2 linked regions of the Homo sapiens genome follow. The protein of the gene in region 2 interacts with the protein of the main gene of each other region in a pairwise test. Each region holds a gene or a part of one and is shown on either strand. Other genes may lie near its edges.

Region 1 (8,653 bases), on a different chromosome or scaffold from region 2:
CCATAGTGGAATAAAATTGGACGTCAACTCCAAAAGGAACCTTCAAAACCATGCAAATACATGGAAATTAAATAACCTGCTCCTAAGTGAGCTTTGGGTCAAAAATAAAATCAAGATGGAAATTAAACAATCATTCGAACTGAATGACAATAATGACACAACCTATCAAAGCCTCTGGGATACAGCAAAGGCAGTGCTAAGAGAAAAGTTCAAACCCCAAAACGCCTACATCAAAAAGTCTGAAAGAGCACTAACAGACAATCTAAGGCCACACCTCAAGGAACTAGAAAAACAAGAACAAACCAAACCCAAACCCAGCAGAAGAAAGAAAATAACCAAGATCAAAGCAGAAACAAATGAAATTGAAATAAACAAACAAAAAAAACAAAAGATAAATGAAACAAAAAGCTGGTTCTTTGAAAAGCTACATAAAATTGATAGACCATTAGCAAGATTAACCAAGAAAAGAAGAGAGAAAATCCAATAAGCTCAATTAGAAACAAAATGGAAGATATTACAACTGACACCACAGAAATACAAAAGGTCATTCAAGGCTACTATGAACACCTTTACGCACATAAACTAGAAAACTAGAGTAGATAGATAAATTCCTGAAAGATAAAACCCTGCTAGCTTAATTCAGGTAGAATTAGATACCCTGAACAGACCAACAACAAGCAGCAAGACTGAAATAATTAAAAAACTACCAGCAGGAAAAAGTCCAGGACCAGACAGATTCACAGAAGAATTCTACCAGATATTCAAAGAAAAACTGGTACTATTGGCACTATTCTACAAGATAGAGAAAGAGGGAATCCTCCATAAATCATTCTATGAAGGCAGTATCACCCTAATACCAAAACCAGGAAAGGACATAACCAAAAAATAAAACTATAGACTGATATCCCTGATGAACATAGATGCTAAAATCCTTAACAAAATACTAGCTAACCGAATTCAACAACATATGAAAAAGATAATCCACCACGATTAAGTGGTTTTCATACCAGGGATGCAGGGATGATTTAACATACGCAAGTCAATAAATGTGATACACCACATAAACAGAATTAAAAACAAAAATCACACGATCATCTCAATAGATGCAGAAAAAGCAATCAACAAAATCTAGTACCCCTTTCTGATTAAAATTCTCAGCAAAATTGATACAAGGGACATACCTCAATGTAATAAAAGCCATCTATGACAGACCCACAGCCAACATAATGCTGAATGGGGAAAAGTTGAAAGCATTCCCTCTGAGAACTGGGACAACATAAGGATGCCCACTCTCTCCACTCCTCTTCAGCACAGTACTAGAAGAAGTCCTAGGCAGAGCAATCAGACAACAGAAAGAAATAAAGGTCATCCAAATAGGTAAAGAAGTCAAACTGTCACTGTTCACTGATGATATGATTGTTTACCTGGAAAATCCTAAAGACTCCTCCAGAAAGCTCCTAGAACTGATAAAAGAATTCAGCGAAGTTTCTGGATACAAAATTAATATACACATATCAGTAGCTCTTCTTTACACCAACAGCGACCAAGCTGAGAATCAAATCAAGAACTCAACCCCTTTTACAATAGCTGAAAAACAAACAAACAAACAAAAACTTAGAAATATACATAACCAAGGAGGTGAAAGACCTCTACAAGGAAAACTACAAAACACTGCTGAAAGAAATAACAGATGACACAAATAATGAAACAAATAATGGAAACACATTCCATGCTGATAGGGTGGGAATCAACATTGTGAAAATGACCATACTGCCAAAAGCAATCTAAAAATTCAATGCAATTCCCATCAAAATACCACTATCATTCTTCACAGAATTAGAAAAAACAATCCTAAACTTCATATAGAACCTAAAAAGAGCCCGCATAGCCAAAGCAAGAATAAGCAAAAAGAATAAACCTGGAGGCATCACACTACCTGATTTCAAACTATACTATAAGACCATAGTTACCAAAACAGCATGGTACTGGTATAAAAATAGGCACATAGACCAATGGAATAGAACAGAGAGCCCAGAAATAAAGCCAAATACTTACAGCCAACTGATCTTTGACAAAGCAAACAAAAACATAAAGTGAGGAAAGGACACCCTATTCAACAAATTGTGCTGGGATAATTGGCAAGCCACAAGTAGGAGAATAAAACTGGATCCTCATCTCTCACCTTATATAAAAATCAACTCAAGATGGATCAAGGACTTAAATCTAAGACCTGAAACTATAAAAATTCTAGAAAATAACATTGGAAAACCTCTTCTAGACATTGGCTTAGGCAAGGGTTTCATGACCAAGAACCCAAAAGCAAATGCAATAAAAACAAAGATATATAGCTGGGACTTAATTAACCTAAAGAGCTTTTTCACGGCAAAAGGAACAGTCAACAGAGTAAACAGACAACCCACAGAGTGGGAAAAAATCTTCATAATCTATACATCTGACAAAAGATTAATATCCAGAATTTACAATGAACTCAAACAAATTAGCAAGGAAAAACAAAGAAGCCCATCAAAAAGTGGGCTAAGGACATGAATAGACAATTCTCAAAAGAAGATATACAAATGGCCAACAAACATATGAAAAAATGTTCAACATCACTAATGATCAGGGAAATGTAAATCAAAACCACAATGTGATATCATCTTAGTCCTGCAAGAATGGCCATAATCAAAACATCATAAAATATTAGATGTTGGTGTGGATGCAATGAACTGGGAACTGCTGGTGGGAATGTAAACTAGTACAACCACTATGGAAGATTCCTTAAAGAACTAAAAGTGTGAAGATTCCTCAAAGAACTAAAAGTAGAACCACCATTTGATCCAGCAATCCCACTACTGGGTATCTACCCATTGGAAAAGAACTCATCATACAAAAAAGATACTTGTACATGCATGTTTATAGCAGCACAATTTGCAACTGCAAAAATATGGAACCAACCCAAATACCCATCAATCAATAAGTGGACAAAGAAAATGTGATATATATGATGGAATACTATTTAGCCATAAAAAGGAATGAATTAATAGCATTCACAGTGACTTGGATGAGACTGGAGACTATTATTCTAAGTGAAGTAACTCAGGAATAGAAAACCAAACATTGTATGTTCTCACTCATAAGTGGTAGCTAAGGTATGAGGATGCAAAGGCATAAGAATGACACAATGAACTTTGGGGACTCAGGGGGAAAGGGTGGGAAGGGGGTGAGGGATAAAAGACTACAAATTGGGGGCACTGTATACTGCCTGGGTGATGGGTGCACCAAAATCTCACAAATCACCACTATAGAACTTACTCATGTAACCAAACACGACCTGTTCCCCAGTAACCTATGGAAATAAAAAAAATTGTTTTTAAAGTAGTGGGATAACATCAGCTTTCCCAGGTAGAATAAGAACTTGATTGTTACGTAGAAAGAAAAGAAAAATTATATTTAAATACTGTGTTTAAAAATATACTTTTCATGGAATTTTATAGCAGGCTGGGCTCCTGATTATCATGTATTCTAACCTTCTGAGTTTATAGACGAGGAAATTAGAGATTGTGACTACAAGGTCACAATGTTAGCTGGTAGGAGACCCAGAATTAGAATCCAGGTCTTCTAACTCCCAGGAAGTGCTCAGAATGCCACAATAAACATAAAAATATTTGTATTTACTTCAAGATGAAGGGGGGAAATGCTGCATAAATATTTTCATATCACACACAATTATAAAAAGCCAAGTCACATTTTTAATTTTACATTATTATAAGCATATATGGTACGTGTTTGACTTGCCAATTTTCAGCAGTGACACAGACAAGAAATAAATTTTGTTAATTATTCATGTCATTTTAGAACTGATATTTATTGAGCACTAAATATATAATAAACTATATAAGTCCTTACCTTCATGAAGTATACACTCAGGTGGGACAGATAAACACTAAACAAATCAGCAACACAAATTATAATATAGTGCTGCAAAGGGGAAAAAAAAAAAAGAGAGGGAAGTGATATAGAAAAATGAGGAGGAACTGCCATAGCAGAGTGGCCAGGAAAAGCCTCACTGAAAGGAAAGATGGAGTCAGCCACTTAAGGATGGTGGGGAAGCTATTTCAGATAGGAGAAATGCCATGTACAAAAAGGCCCTGAATTGGAATTTTCAAATGCTGCCATTTCAAGGAAATCAGTAAAAATAAATCCAATGTATTGAAACATGATAGGTGAGAAAAAGGACCCAAGATGAGGCTGGGGAGAGAGCAGGGAGGGCCAGCTCCAGTAGGGCTGTGAGGAACCTGTAGAGTTGGATCTTTATAGATGATAGGGAAGCCATGGAAGTGTTTCAGTCAGTATGTGACATAATCTGATTTTCAAAAAATAAGCCTGGCTGCTCTGTGGAAAATAAATTTATGGTAATAGTGAGGATGAAAATAAGTAAATGAATTAGTTACATATTTTAGAAGCAGAAACAATAGAACTTGCTAATAGATTAGATGTGGATTGTGAGGGGAAAGAAGAATGAAAGATGACTTTCATGTCACAGTGAGGTGAATGGTGGTAATGTTTACTGTATTGGTTAAGAAAGCCTGATGGCATTTTCCCAGAAAAATGACATAATCAGAGCTGAACTCTAGAGAATAAACAAGGCAGCATACCTGTTATAAGCATAAGGACTAGGAATGAGACTAAAACAACAGTTAGGTAGTCATTTGGCTTGTCTGAACTATGATAGTGGCAGAGGAAATGAAAGTGAGAGATATTTGACTTGGCAACTCATTAAGTGTGGAGGATAAAGGAGAGAAAAAGCCAAAGATGGCTCAGGTTTCAAGCTTGGATTACCTAGTGGAACCACACAGGGAAAGCAGATCTATGGGAAAAGGTGAGGGATAGAGATAAGTTAGAGACATACAGAACTTGAGGTACCAACAGTTCATCCAGGTGAAGATATCCCATGGGCCAGGGGGATACAGATCTGGAGTCTCAATGATGTCAGAGTTGGAACTAAATAGTGACATTCTCTACGGTGAGGTGACGGTTGAAATCACGAAAGTGGGTGAGATCTCAAGAAAATTATATAAAGAATGAGATAGAGCCTTGAAAATACTTGTAAGTTAAGAATTGAAAAGAGGAAGGGAGGCTAAAGAATAAGCAACCACATAGAAAGAAGGAGGAAAATGAGAGTCATGGAGGCAAAAGAAGAGCACAGTTTCAAGAAGGGAGGAAGGGTCAACAGTGTCAGATGGCATAAACAAGCCAAAGACAATGCTGGCAAAGTAAACCTCTCTAGATCTGGTAAAAGGACAGCACTGGCTACCTAGGAGAAAGTATTCTGGGGCTGTGGGTAGGGAGAAGTCAGATTGTAAGTGATTTGACAGTCAAGTGAGAAACAAAGTTATCTTGCTTAAAGGCATCACAAGGTATTATAGAAAGAGGACAGGATGATATGACTCTAGCTAGAGAAGCAGTCACTAGAGTGTCTGAAATAGAAATAATATGAAACTTGAAGATGAAAAAGATGAAAGAAGAACATCAGAAATAAAGAGCTGGAAGTCAGTCTGGGAAACACAATATAGTAGGTGATGCTGGAATTATACAGGAGCAAGGGGAAAAGATGAGGGCACTTGGAATAGATGTCCTGGTCTTTATTACCTAAGTAAGAAATGAAGTTATATTCTGTCTATGAGGAACAGTCCTAAGAATTTCCAAAATATAGACAAATATGTTGGCTATTATGTGGACCTCTGGGTATTAGAGGTCCTTCATTTAAAATTAGAACCTTCATTTAATTCAGAGAAACCATAATTCCCTTATTATAAACAAACAAACTTAGTTTCAAAGTCATGCATTTAGCTTCTCTCTACCCCATTATCTATGCTAAGGCTCATTTATCTAGAAATTGTGATGATCCAAGTAAAATGAATTGGAAAATAAAAATAATATTTTTATGTGCACTATCCTTAAAGAAATGAATTATGAATATTAAATAAGTACAAATTAAGTAACAACAATTAGTGTAAAATAACATAGAAAACAAAAAATAGGAAGCCTATTTCCTACTCAAGCGCAATTTCTCCTCTGAATTTTACTAATACTTTCTTACGACATATATCACTTTATCACCTTCTACTTTATAACAGTTACTTACTATTCTTTTCAGTAAAAATTAAACATACCAGGATTCATATCTTGGTAATTATTTAGTGCCTATCCCACTTCTCTCTTGTATTTTCAGCCCTCTCCCTTCTCTGCTGATTTTGCAATGTCTGTCAAAGCCACAAATAAACAAAAGAAACAAGCAAAAGGAAAAGATACATCCAATTATATAAATCATACTGTTTAGTGGATGTTTAGGTTCGGCCTATGAATGCATATGTGAATGTGTCCCTATAAATGAGTTAAGTGGGGAAGAGGAAATGATACAGATTCTAGTTGAGAGACTGAAATTGTTTAAAAATAAGTGACTATCATGTAAATGGCATAGCTCCTCCCCAGCCTCTAGCTTACAACAGGTACTCAATAAAAGTTGGCTGGCTGGATGAAAATGTTATAGACATTTAACAGGAATAATAAAATAAAAATTAAGACAAGAAAAGAAACAGACTAAGAGTAAATTAAGAAAGCTAACTTATCAAAACTGATCAGTACTTCTCAGAACCAGTTACACATAAAGCTCATCTGGAAATTAGAACTGATGAGGGTTGGAATAACGTAACTTTCTTAAAAATCTCGCCAGTGATTCTGCTACATGGTCAGGGCTAGGGCTACTTCACTTTAGTGAAAAGAGGAGGCTCATTGACAAGGAAAAACAAGAATGATGTGGTAATGTCAATAGATGGAAATGAGGAAACTCACATTGCAAAAACATAAAGATAAATGAGAAACAAACAAAAATGTTATACCACCCATTGGTTATGTAATATCAAACATGAAATGTTCCCTGAAAACCAAAAACTTATGGAGACTGCCTTGCAGAAAACTGACAATAGATGGAGTCATTGTTTTCATAATGATATTCTGCATCTCATGAAGATTAGATATGTCACCATTACAGAATACAGTTACCTTTAAAAAGTGGAGAACACACGGCTGATAAACATAGAATATAAATTCAAGAATTCAGAATTATAGCCAACTTTTCTTTAACTGCATTTGGAAAATAGTCTGGTGAAGTCTACAGGGAACTACTTTACTCCCTGTAATCAGCTTCCTGACTAAAGAAAGCCTCTTTTTAGCCTGAGTTCAGCTGTCCATGACTAAGGGTTAAGGCATCTGAACAATTTTCTCCTCAGAGCCCTTTGGAAATTCTGTGGTTTACTGTTTTAACTTTTTTGCAAGCAGTTGGCTCTCAGACCCTAATTCAAGGGGTACCCTAAAATTCCAGATGATACCTTTTTGTCAAAGGCCACATGCGCAGGAATAAAATCCGCAGGTGGGGCTTGTTTAGGTTGGCCATAAGTTAAGACTGGTGCCTTACTGGCCAACTCATCCAGCTCAGCCTGGGACAGCTGGTTGAACTGGAGCCGGTCTCCGCCTATCCCAACTGTTGGACGTCGAACAATTGCATAGCCGTTCCTGTAGCTCAGCGTCTGACTTCTGTGGAAGGCTGTTTTCTGAAGAAGAAAAGAATGTGTCATTAATAACATTAGACAAATATTTGTTAGGTAAAAAAAAAACTAACTTTTAAAAATATAACTTGAATCTTTGCTTATAAGCATCACAAAACTTACATCAAGAAGCTTACCAACATTAAGGCTGGGCATGGTGGCTCGTGCCTATAATCCCAGAACTCTGGGAGGCTGAAGAGGGAGAATCACTTCAGCCCCAGAGTTCGAGACCAGCCTGGGCAACAAGATGCTGTCTCTACAAAAACTAAAAAAAAAAAAAAAAAAAAAAAAAAATTAGCTGGGTGTGGTGGCTTGTGCCTATTATAGTCGGCTGAGGTGGAAGGATCACTTGAGCCTGGGAGGTCCAAGCTGCAATAAGCTATGATTGAACCACTGCACTCCAGCCTGGGCAACAGTGAGACTCTGTCTCAAAAAAACAAAACAAAACAAAAGCTTACCTACATTAAAAGATTCTGTATTTTAAGTTAAAACACTTGAACAAGAACAAGGAGCGAAGTAGCCACCTAAGCTTAAAGTAAAATTTAAAGCTGTGCTCTGTAATGCCCAATTTAACTACCAATTCACCTTGCATGAGAGATTAAAAGAGTATCTCATCTATACTCTTAAGTTTTTCACTAGTCTTCTCATGTTTTTCATCTGATATCTGGGGCCGTAAAAACTGTAGAACCTAGAAGATACGGTTCTGTGAATTTTATTTTTACATGGAATGAATTTATTTTTACCTGTCCCTCTTGTCACAATGACAGTGATACATTCTTACAACTCTTTGGAAAGCAACTGGATGGTATATATTTAAAGTCTTGAACTCAATAATTCTACCCCGACCATTTATTTACGAATATGATTCAGAATTATGAGAAAGAACTATATGCCTGAAGCTGCCCATTACAATGGTAAATGTTGAAGACAATCTAAAAGACAGTCATATGAAGACATGAGTAAATGATCGAAAACTCACTCAATGGATTATGGTGCTGTCATTAAAATATTGATTTTAGAGATCACGTGGCAACCTGGTGAAAATATTT
Region 2 (8,810 bases):
ATAGGAGTTCATTGATCATTGCTGCCTGTGGTGGTACACATGCCCCTTAGGAGAAAGCCAGATTATCTCGTTTTAGTCTATTCTAAATTTATATTTACTTGCTAGGGGGTGGCGAGTGGGTGTTGCTTGTCCAAGGTAATATCTGTAAGGTCTCCACAGCCCTAAAACTATAAAAATGGTGCTTCAGTACCTATACCAAGGGAGACATCCCTGGATCATGGGACTATGTTTCTCTGCCTTGCAGATACAAACCGGAACTGCTCAATTTAATGGTTTCAGCAGAAGGGTTTAAACCACACATGTCAAAGATTAGCTTACCTGGATCCACTTGGCCACTAGATTTGAAGATTTTATCTGCCTTTGCAGGCAAAAACATATAAAAATTTGAAAGATTGGGGTCCTGTTTCCTACTCAGTACCTTAACTCTTTATTAGAGTTAGATCACCTCTGTCTTAGACAGCTTTAATCATATATAACCAACTTTGAGAATTTAAACTGGTCCTTAGTATGAGTATATCCTATAGTTAATTGGGTCCAATGCCTAACTAAACTCTGGCAGAACCTTCCACTATGAGGTAATACTAATGTCCTACCATCTGCATAAGGCAGAACTCATTCCAGCAGGAATTCCCATCTTTTTACCAACTCCTTATGGGAAATGAGGTCTTTGTCATCCCGTGATTGATGCAGGACATCATTGTAATATATACACTTGCTCCATTTATATGCCAGAGATACTCCCATGCCATGGAAGGAAGTGAAACCTTACCAGGAGGTTATCCCTCCCGACTGGAAGATACAAAAAGTATGATAATTCTCCTAGACTTAACAGATCATTCCTCTATAAAATTCAGACACTCTTCAAGGAAAAGGAATGGTTTTAGAAGCTGCGTTTGATAAGAACAGGGAGCTTCTGTCTCCACATTCTCCCCTGCTATCAAATCTTGGTTGTTGTCAGCTGCATGCTTCTCTGCTTGTCTTTTAAAAGGATTTCATTCCCATTACCTTAGAAAGAAAGTAAAAGCTAGAGAAGCTGCTGTCAACTTTTTACTTAAATCTGACAGTATATCTCTGCCTTGGACTTGCCCACATTTTTTTTTTGTTTTTTTGTTTATTGATCTGTGTTTTGACCTTCCTCTGCCTTTCACAAGCTGAGTTTCTTTTTTTTTAACATGTACTTGCTTCATTGCCTCTTGTCAATAGCACTGAATGTAAGAAACATTCATTTTGATATTGAGGTATGAATATTTTGTGTTGGCTTCTTTTGTGTGTTAAAAATAAAAATTACACTGTCTAATTATTGACATGTTTTAAGAATCAAGGATTTTCCCATGTTAATGTAATTCTTTTTGAGTGTCCAAATTTTAGTTCTATTTTGAAATATAAAATTTATCTGCTCTAAATGTTGTCTGCTACTGGTATTACACTAACAAAAGTACTATGGCAGCCACTTTATGTAACTGATTGACCACAGCATCTCACAAACTGTGCCAAGTACTTGAACCTTCCTAGGACTAATAGGACGTAACCTCTGGCCACAAGGTCGTGTGAACATGTCATTGCAGTCCAAAGAATACAGCTGTAAATATTTTGCAGTGTTGAACTGCGTCTTCAAGGAAGCCCAGGAAAATTGCCTACATTGGTAAATGTTTTAGCTTCATTTGAGGAGTATAGAAAAACATAAGGCACTATGTGTCAAAAGGAGCACAAATAAAGACAACAGACTAGCTCAGAAGTTCAGGTGAAATTCCATTCCACATTTCTTTGATTTTCACTACAGAGGCAATCTTGACAATTTATAAGTCATATTAATTCATGTTTTACATGTACTTTGGAAAATGAGTATTTCAGGGAAACCTGTGTTTTATAATTTTGTAAGCAGAAGTCATACCTTAAGTTTTTTAAAAATGAAGTTTTTTTTTGAAATATAACCTGTGCGTTATTATTTACTGGAAAATTCTATTGTAACCAGATGAGCATAGCACTTATGTAAGCCATCAAATGAACATTAAAATTATAATATTGTACAGAACTCATTTTTATAGTGCTATTTGGCAAAATGCAATTTTACTTTCTCTTTGGGAAGAAGATATTTTAAGCTAATAACCATTATCTACAATCTCAAAATGAAGGGCATAACTTTGAAAACTCTTGTAAAGGTAGTACAGTTAGGAAGTAAATGACTAAAGAGGGTCTCTGTTACCGTATACTAGCGCCTGCCACTGTTCCTTCTGATTTTCTCATCACTTAACATCTGCTTGTGTCTTCAGTGATGAGGTGGTGTGGAGAAGAGAGAAGAGGATCTGAACAGGAGAACAGGATGTGATGGCTCAAGGGAGCAAATGTGGTTTCTTACAGAGTAGGGAGGAGTTATAAACTAGGGATGGAGAACTCTATCATATCACACATTTTTTTCATATTTACCATTTCTATAACTGAGGTACATCTTAATATCGTTAGCTTGTCAAAGTTTAGCAGCAGTATTTTGTCTTGGTGGCACGTAAAATAATGGTTGCTATTACAAATGATAGCATCTTATAGTTGATGAAATATTTGAGCAGCTCTGTGAGCTATTCCCTCCGTATCACAAGAAAGTAAAATTAACAGACAGGGAGGAGGGAAAGAATTTTGCAGGGAGATGAGAGAGAGAGGGAGAGACAAAACAATGTGGCTGCTTGATGTTAAAATTAGGCAAATTATTTTATAACTTTTATAAAATTAAATTTTATTTTTTGATACAGGGTCTTGCTCTGTCACCCAGGCTGGAGTGTATTGCAACCTCAACCTCCTGGGCTCAGGTGATCTTCCTGCCTTAGGAAACTCCCGTATAGTTGGGGCCACAGGCATACCCCACCATACCTGGCTAACTTTTTTATCTTTTTGTGGAGACTGGGTCTCACTTTGTTGCCCAGGCTGGGCTCAAGCTATGCTGCTGCCTCAGCCTCCCAAAGTGTTGGGATTACAGATGTGAGCCACCATGCGTGGCAAAATTCCTGAAGATCAAATAGAGATCAGAATATTACTTCACAAGTAAAGAGCAGCTTTTTAATAATACAGGGATAGAAAGTTTGCCTAACTGGTTTGTTAAGATGCTAGTACCTTTTATTAGTAGACCTCAACTCAGAACCACAGGCAAAAAAACTTCTAGGAACATATTTTAAATGAGAAGAAAGGAGACTACTAGGAATATTAAAAATGGTTTGCCTTTTAAATGTACCTGCTTCTTGAAAAGATTATTTCTTCAGTCTTTTCCCAGAGAGTGTCGACACAGGTGTGATGTAATTAAGAGTCAGGAGAGTAAGGAGAGTAACTTCGAGGTCTGGAGGATCAGCCTGAAATGTTGGTCAGTAGTCCTCTGGTCTGGGTTTTTACAGGAGCTGGAAGTTCTCTTAAAGGCCTCCACATTCAGCTGGATCCAGAAGGTCTTGTGGAAATGAATGAGTGTAACTTCCTGATGCCTAAGACTTCCTAACATACTTGATTTCATTACTTACATGCCAATGCTAATAAGCAGTGTTGCTGCTTGCTTATTCCTTTAACTTCTTCAAACTAGGGATGCCCTTAACTTTTTAAAAAAAGTGCCAGTATCATTTCTCCTCAGTTCTTTGACATAGAGTGTATGTCAAGTTCAGATATAGGGCAGGATAATCCAGCATAGAGCACAAATTTAAATATTTTCAAGCCTTGGGCAGCTTCTTAACATTTTGTTATTCTCTTTCTATTCAAAGAAAATTTAATTATATCTAGGTCTTTTGGAAAGTACTAGAGCAAACAAAATAACACTAATGAAATAATAAAACATCCCCAGTTGGAGAGGAAGGCTAGCATTTTTATTTAGTGAAAGAGACCTAGAAGAGATCTCAGACATTCTAGTAATATCATTATTATGGATGCTGAGGCCCAGAGATGTAAAATAACTTCTCCAAAGTAACACTGCTGTTTAGTGACAGAATCTTAACTAGAAGCCTTCAGTTCTTTTTATAGGATGTGCTTTATATACATAACCTTTAAAATTTTCTCTCGAGTTTTTTCTGATTTTAGGTGGTGGGATATACATAAATTACCATCATCAAAGATGTGTGTTCATACTCAATAAGATTCTTTTGGTTGCAAGTAGCAGAAACCAGTCAACAAACCAATCTAGCCAAAAAAGGAGTGCGGGGGAGAATTTAGAAAGAATCCCATACTATTTCCCAGAATCCAAAGAAGAGCAAATGGCCAAGGAAAAGATATGAATTGAGCCATTCCAAAGCCTTTGGTAGGATGAGTTTGTGTGGCTTCTCTGCAGAGTGCTGGCAAGACCATGTCCTTCTAGTAATTGGTGGTGTGAGCCCCTTAGTTGAACATTTCAAGCACAAGAGCGAGCAAGCACAGACACACAGAGGCCATTCCTACCACCTTCAGTACTCTTCCTTCTTACCCCCACCCACCCCAGTCTAAATCCTACCCATTTTTCAAGGTCCAGCACAATCATTGCTTATTCTTCAAAACTCTTCTTGGCCTGGCGTGGTGGCTCACACCTGTAATCCTAGCACTTTGGGAGGCTGAGGTGGGCGGATCACCAGAGGTCAGGAGTTCAAGACCAGCCTGGCCAACATGGCAAAACCCCATCTCCACTAAAAATACAAAAATTAGCCTGGCGCAGTGGCACATACCTGTAATCCCAGCTACCCAGGAGGCAGAGGCAGGAGAATCGCTTGAACCCAGGAGGCGGAGGTTGCGGTGAGCCAAGATCGCGCCACTGCACTCCAGTCTAGGCAACAGAGCGAGACTCCATCTCAAAACAAAACAAAACAAAAAACTCTTCTTGATCTCTAGCTAGACATCTGAGTGGGTGTGTGTGTGTGTGCAAGTACATGTGTGTTTAATCCCAGTACTCTTGTATGTTTCTATTTTATGACCTTTAACATATTCAACTTGACAGAAGAATCCTACAGCACATATGGAATAACCAGTAATTGGTCAGTTACATTAAAAGATGGGAAATCATAAAAATGATATCAATATGCAGTTCCTATCTGCCTTAAACATTTTATCTTAAAACTTATAAATGTACGTTTAGTTGGCTGGGCACGGTGGCTCACGCCTGTAATCCCAGCACTTTGGGAGGCCGAGGTGGGCAGATCACGTGAGGTCAGGGGTTCAAGACCTGCCTGGTTACCATGGTGAAACCCTGGCTGTACTAAAAATACAAAAATTAGCTGGGCATGGTGGCGCACGCCTGTAATCCCAGCACCTCAGGTGGCTGAGGCATGAGAATTGCTTGAACCTGGGAGGCGGAGGTTTCAGTGAGTTGAGATTGCACCACTGTACTCCAGCTACTCCAGCCTGGGTGACAGAGTGAGACATCATCTCAGAAATAAAATAAAATAAAATAAATGTACATTTAGTTGCTGATGTATATGTAAGACAAGGCCTTTGCTTTGAATATAGGATACTGACTGACCATCTGTTTTCTTTGTTTTTCAAAAATTAAACCCATCATTTAGTTTTTCAGTCTCATTCTGTCGCCCAGGCTGGAGTGCAGTGATGTGATCTCAGCTCATTGCAACCTCTACCTACAGAGTTCAAACAATTCTCATGCCTTAGCCTCCCAAATAGCTAGGACTACAGGCATGCACCACCACGCCCACCTTTTTTTTTTTTTTTTGGATTTTTAGTAGAGAGACGGTTTCCTTGTGTTGCCTGGGCTAGTCTCAAACTCCTGGCCTCAAGTGATCTGCCCTCCTCGGCTTCCCAAAGTTCTGGGATTACAGGCGTGAGCCACTGCACCTGGCCCCATGATTTAGTTTAGATTTTCGATTTTGGTTTCTTTGAAAAGGAGCAAGAACTTAGACACTGTGAAACTATCTAAATGCAGACTCTTTCTAGACTCCTGTGCTTCCCTTTCAGTCTCCAGTTGTCTCACCTGTACCTAATTTGACAGTATTGTGTTACAACTTAACTTTATATCATCTTACCAAAGCATTCTACATAGTTTTTATAGAAACACCCCCCAAACTCCCCTCATACTTGCAATTTAATGGGCTTCTGTAATATATAATCAGATTACATAATTATTAAAACTAATATAGACAAGTTCTAGCATCGTTTGAGCAGACGTGTGTGGGAGTACTAGAGATTAACCTATTACCCACTAGTATATAGTGACTGTGGGCATCTGTCGCTATATTTAATAGCAGGCAGTTGAGAGCCTTTGTTAATCTAGAGGTGAGTTAAGTAGAGGTGTATCAAAAGTGCTTCTGGTGTATTAAGATGATTTATGTACCTGTCTTATCCTACGAGACCAGCAGCTCTCGAAATGTGGTCTGGGAACCACTGGGCAGAGGGGTCCCCGAGATCCTTTCAAGGGATCAATGATGTCAAGACCATTTCTATAATAATGCTAATGGCTTTTTTTTATTTTTTCACTCTCATTCTCTAGAAATTTCTTAATTTTAGTTTCTAATATGGTAGATATCAGCAGTTAAAACTTATAAACAGGTTTTTTGGGAGTCTATACATTTTTCCTTTTAAAAACATTTAAATTTAGGTTTTTTAAGCTTATTTTTAATTGACAAGTAAAATTTGTGTATATTTATGGTATATAACGTGATGTTTTGATATATGTATATGTGTGGAATGGCTAAATCAAGCTATTCATATCTATACTTTTTAACTAATACATGCCACAGAACGTTTAAGAAAGTCTACGCTCCTTGAGGGTAGGAGCCGTGTTTCATTTGTTATTCCTGATGTGCTCTTGCATTGTCTTTTACATAGTAGGCACTCAGTAAATAGTTAAGAAATGTGTGAGAATAAAATGAATTATTTTTCAAGTATTTATGGTCTTTTAAACTGGGTCAACAAACTAGCTTTAAGTAAAGGTTTCTATATTAATGAATAGGATCTATAATTAACAGCAGTAATGTGCAAGTGGGTGCTTTTAAATACTTTTAAAATAAAATTTAATACCTTTCCTTTGAAATCTTAAGCAGTATTTTGAAAAAGACAAGAAGTGTGGTTTAGTGGAAAGAATATGAGAATGTGTTCCTATGAGGCTTTAAAAAGAGAGCAGGCAAATCATGCCTAGGGGGCTGCATCAGGAGTAAATTGGCCTTTTAAAAATGTATTTAAGAAGAGAAGGGGAGAAAGGAAGTGAACAGAGATGTCAGGTTACTTAGGAACATCCAGTGGATGGGAAAATTCGTTGCTGATGAAGACTTTTCCATTCACTTTGAGTAGCATTTGGAAGCTATTTTAGGTTTGAAAAGAAGATATGATAGAAAATTATGGTTTGAGAAAGTAAATGTTATTGCTCTGTGTGAGTGACCTTGACTGAAGAATAGTGAGGAGATTGGTGGCCAAGTTGTAATGGGCAGTTGCTGTGGACCTGATTTCTACCCTTGAGCTGTCATATGGAGAAGGTTGATAGCACAAACCTTTAACTGAAAGTTAAATTCAGCCTGTCCACCTGGAGTAGGTACTGCTAAATAAGTGGGGAGCATTCACTTAGTAAAAGGTAGCTATATTAGTCCATTTTCACACTGCTATAAAGAAATGCCTGAGACTGGGTAGTTTATAAAGGAAACAGGTTTAATTGACTCACGGTTCCGCATACCTGAGGAGACCTCAGGAAACTTACATTCATGGTGGAAAGCAAAGGGGAAGCAGGCACCAAGGTGGCAGGAGGGAGAAGTGAGAGCACAGGAAAAAGCTGCCAGTGAGAACTCACTCATTATCACGAGAACAGCATAGGGGGAACTGCCCCATGATCCAGTCACTTCCCTCCCTTGACACGTGGGGATTATAATTTGAGATGAGATTTGGCTGGGGACACAGAGCCAGACCATATCAGTAGCTCTTTTAGTTGCAACATTAATAAACGTGGATATGTGACTAAATTATTTGCAGGGATAGTAGTCTAGATTTATTTTATTTATTTAGTTTTTTGAGACGGAGTCTTGCTCTGTTGCCAGGCTGGAGTGCAGTGGCACTATCTTGGCTCACTGCAACCTTTGCCTCCTGGGTTCAAGCGATTCCCTTGCCTCAGCCTCCTGAGTAGCTGGGACCACAGGTGTGTGCCACCATGCCTGGCTAATTTTTTATATTTTAGTAGAGACAGGGTTTCACCATGTTGGCCAGCATGGTCTCGATCTCCTGACCTCATGATCTGCCTGCCTCGGCCTCCCAAAGTGCTGGGATTATAGCTGTGAGCCACCGTGGCCGACCTAGATTTATTTTTTTAAAGGATTAATTGTCTTCCTTTATTGGACTTTCCTTATGCATTTAAGACATTTGATATATCAGATTTTCCCAAATCTTGCTATTGTTGTGACGACTAAAGAATTTTTCTTGATAGAACTTTCAGCTTCAGCAAGAGCCAAACTTGAATATAAGCTTTTTGCTTTAAGAAAATTCAAATTTTAATTTTATTAAAGACTTTAATGAGAGGAAATTATTTTTAGAATTTAAACTTTATTATAAAATAATAACGGCTTTTAAAATATTTTCTTCCTGCCATATTTTGGTATAAGGTAGTCATGCTTCTCATCATTGCTTTTTCTGCATCTTCTTGAGATTTGTTGCATATGTTGCATTAAGGGACCCTGGATACATTGATTATATACGGTGTGCTTGTAATTAGTTCGTACAGAGTCTCCTAGATTTTGGAGACATCCAAAGATCACTAAAAAAAGATTTTTTAGTATAAATATGTAGGCATGGTTCTATACACTTTCTGCATTTTGATCAATTTATCTGTCTCCCCCAGTGAACTGTATGCTTCTTGAAAACAGTACTGTGTCTTAATCATCTTGATTCCACAATGC

The links.
Region 1: the proteins of KCTD4 (region 2) and EFHC1 interact in binary tests that used the Homo sapiens proteins (3 or more experiments, as listed by UniProt).

Annotation. Positions count from the first base shown.
Region 1 is NC_000006.12:52,422,903-52,431,555, reverse strand, and holds part of EFHC1 (EF-hand domain-containing protein 1), read right to left. Parts: intron 7,870-8,653; exon of another isoform or gene 7,748-7,869; coding exon of another isoform or gene 7,742-7,747; intron 7,611-7,741; coding exon 7,389-7,610; intron 1-7,388. UniProt on the Homo sapiens protein: Microtubule inner protein (MIP) part of the dynein-decorated doublet microtubules (DMTs) in cilia axoneme, which is required for motile cilia beating.
Region 2 is NC_000013.11:45,197,607-45,206,416, forward strand, and holds the start of KCTD4 (BTB/POZ domain-containing protein KCTD4), read right to left. Parts: upstream 3,440-8,810; 5' UTR 3,218-3,439; intron 1-3,217.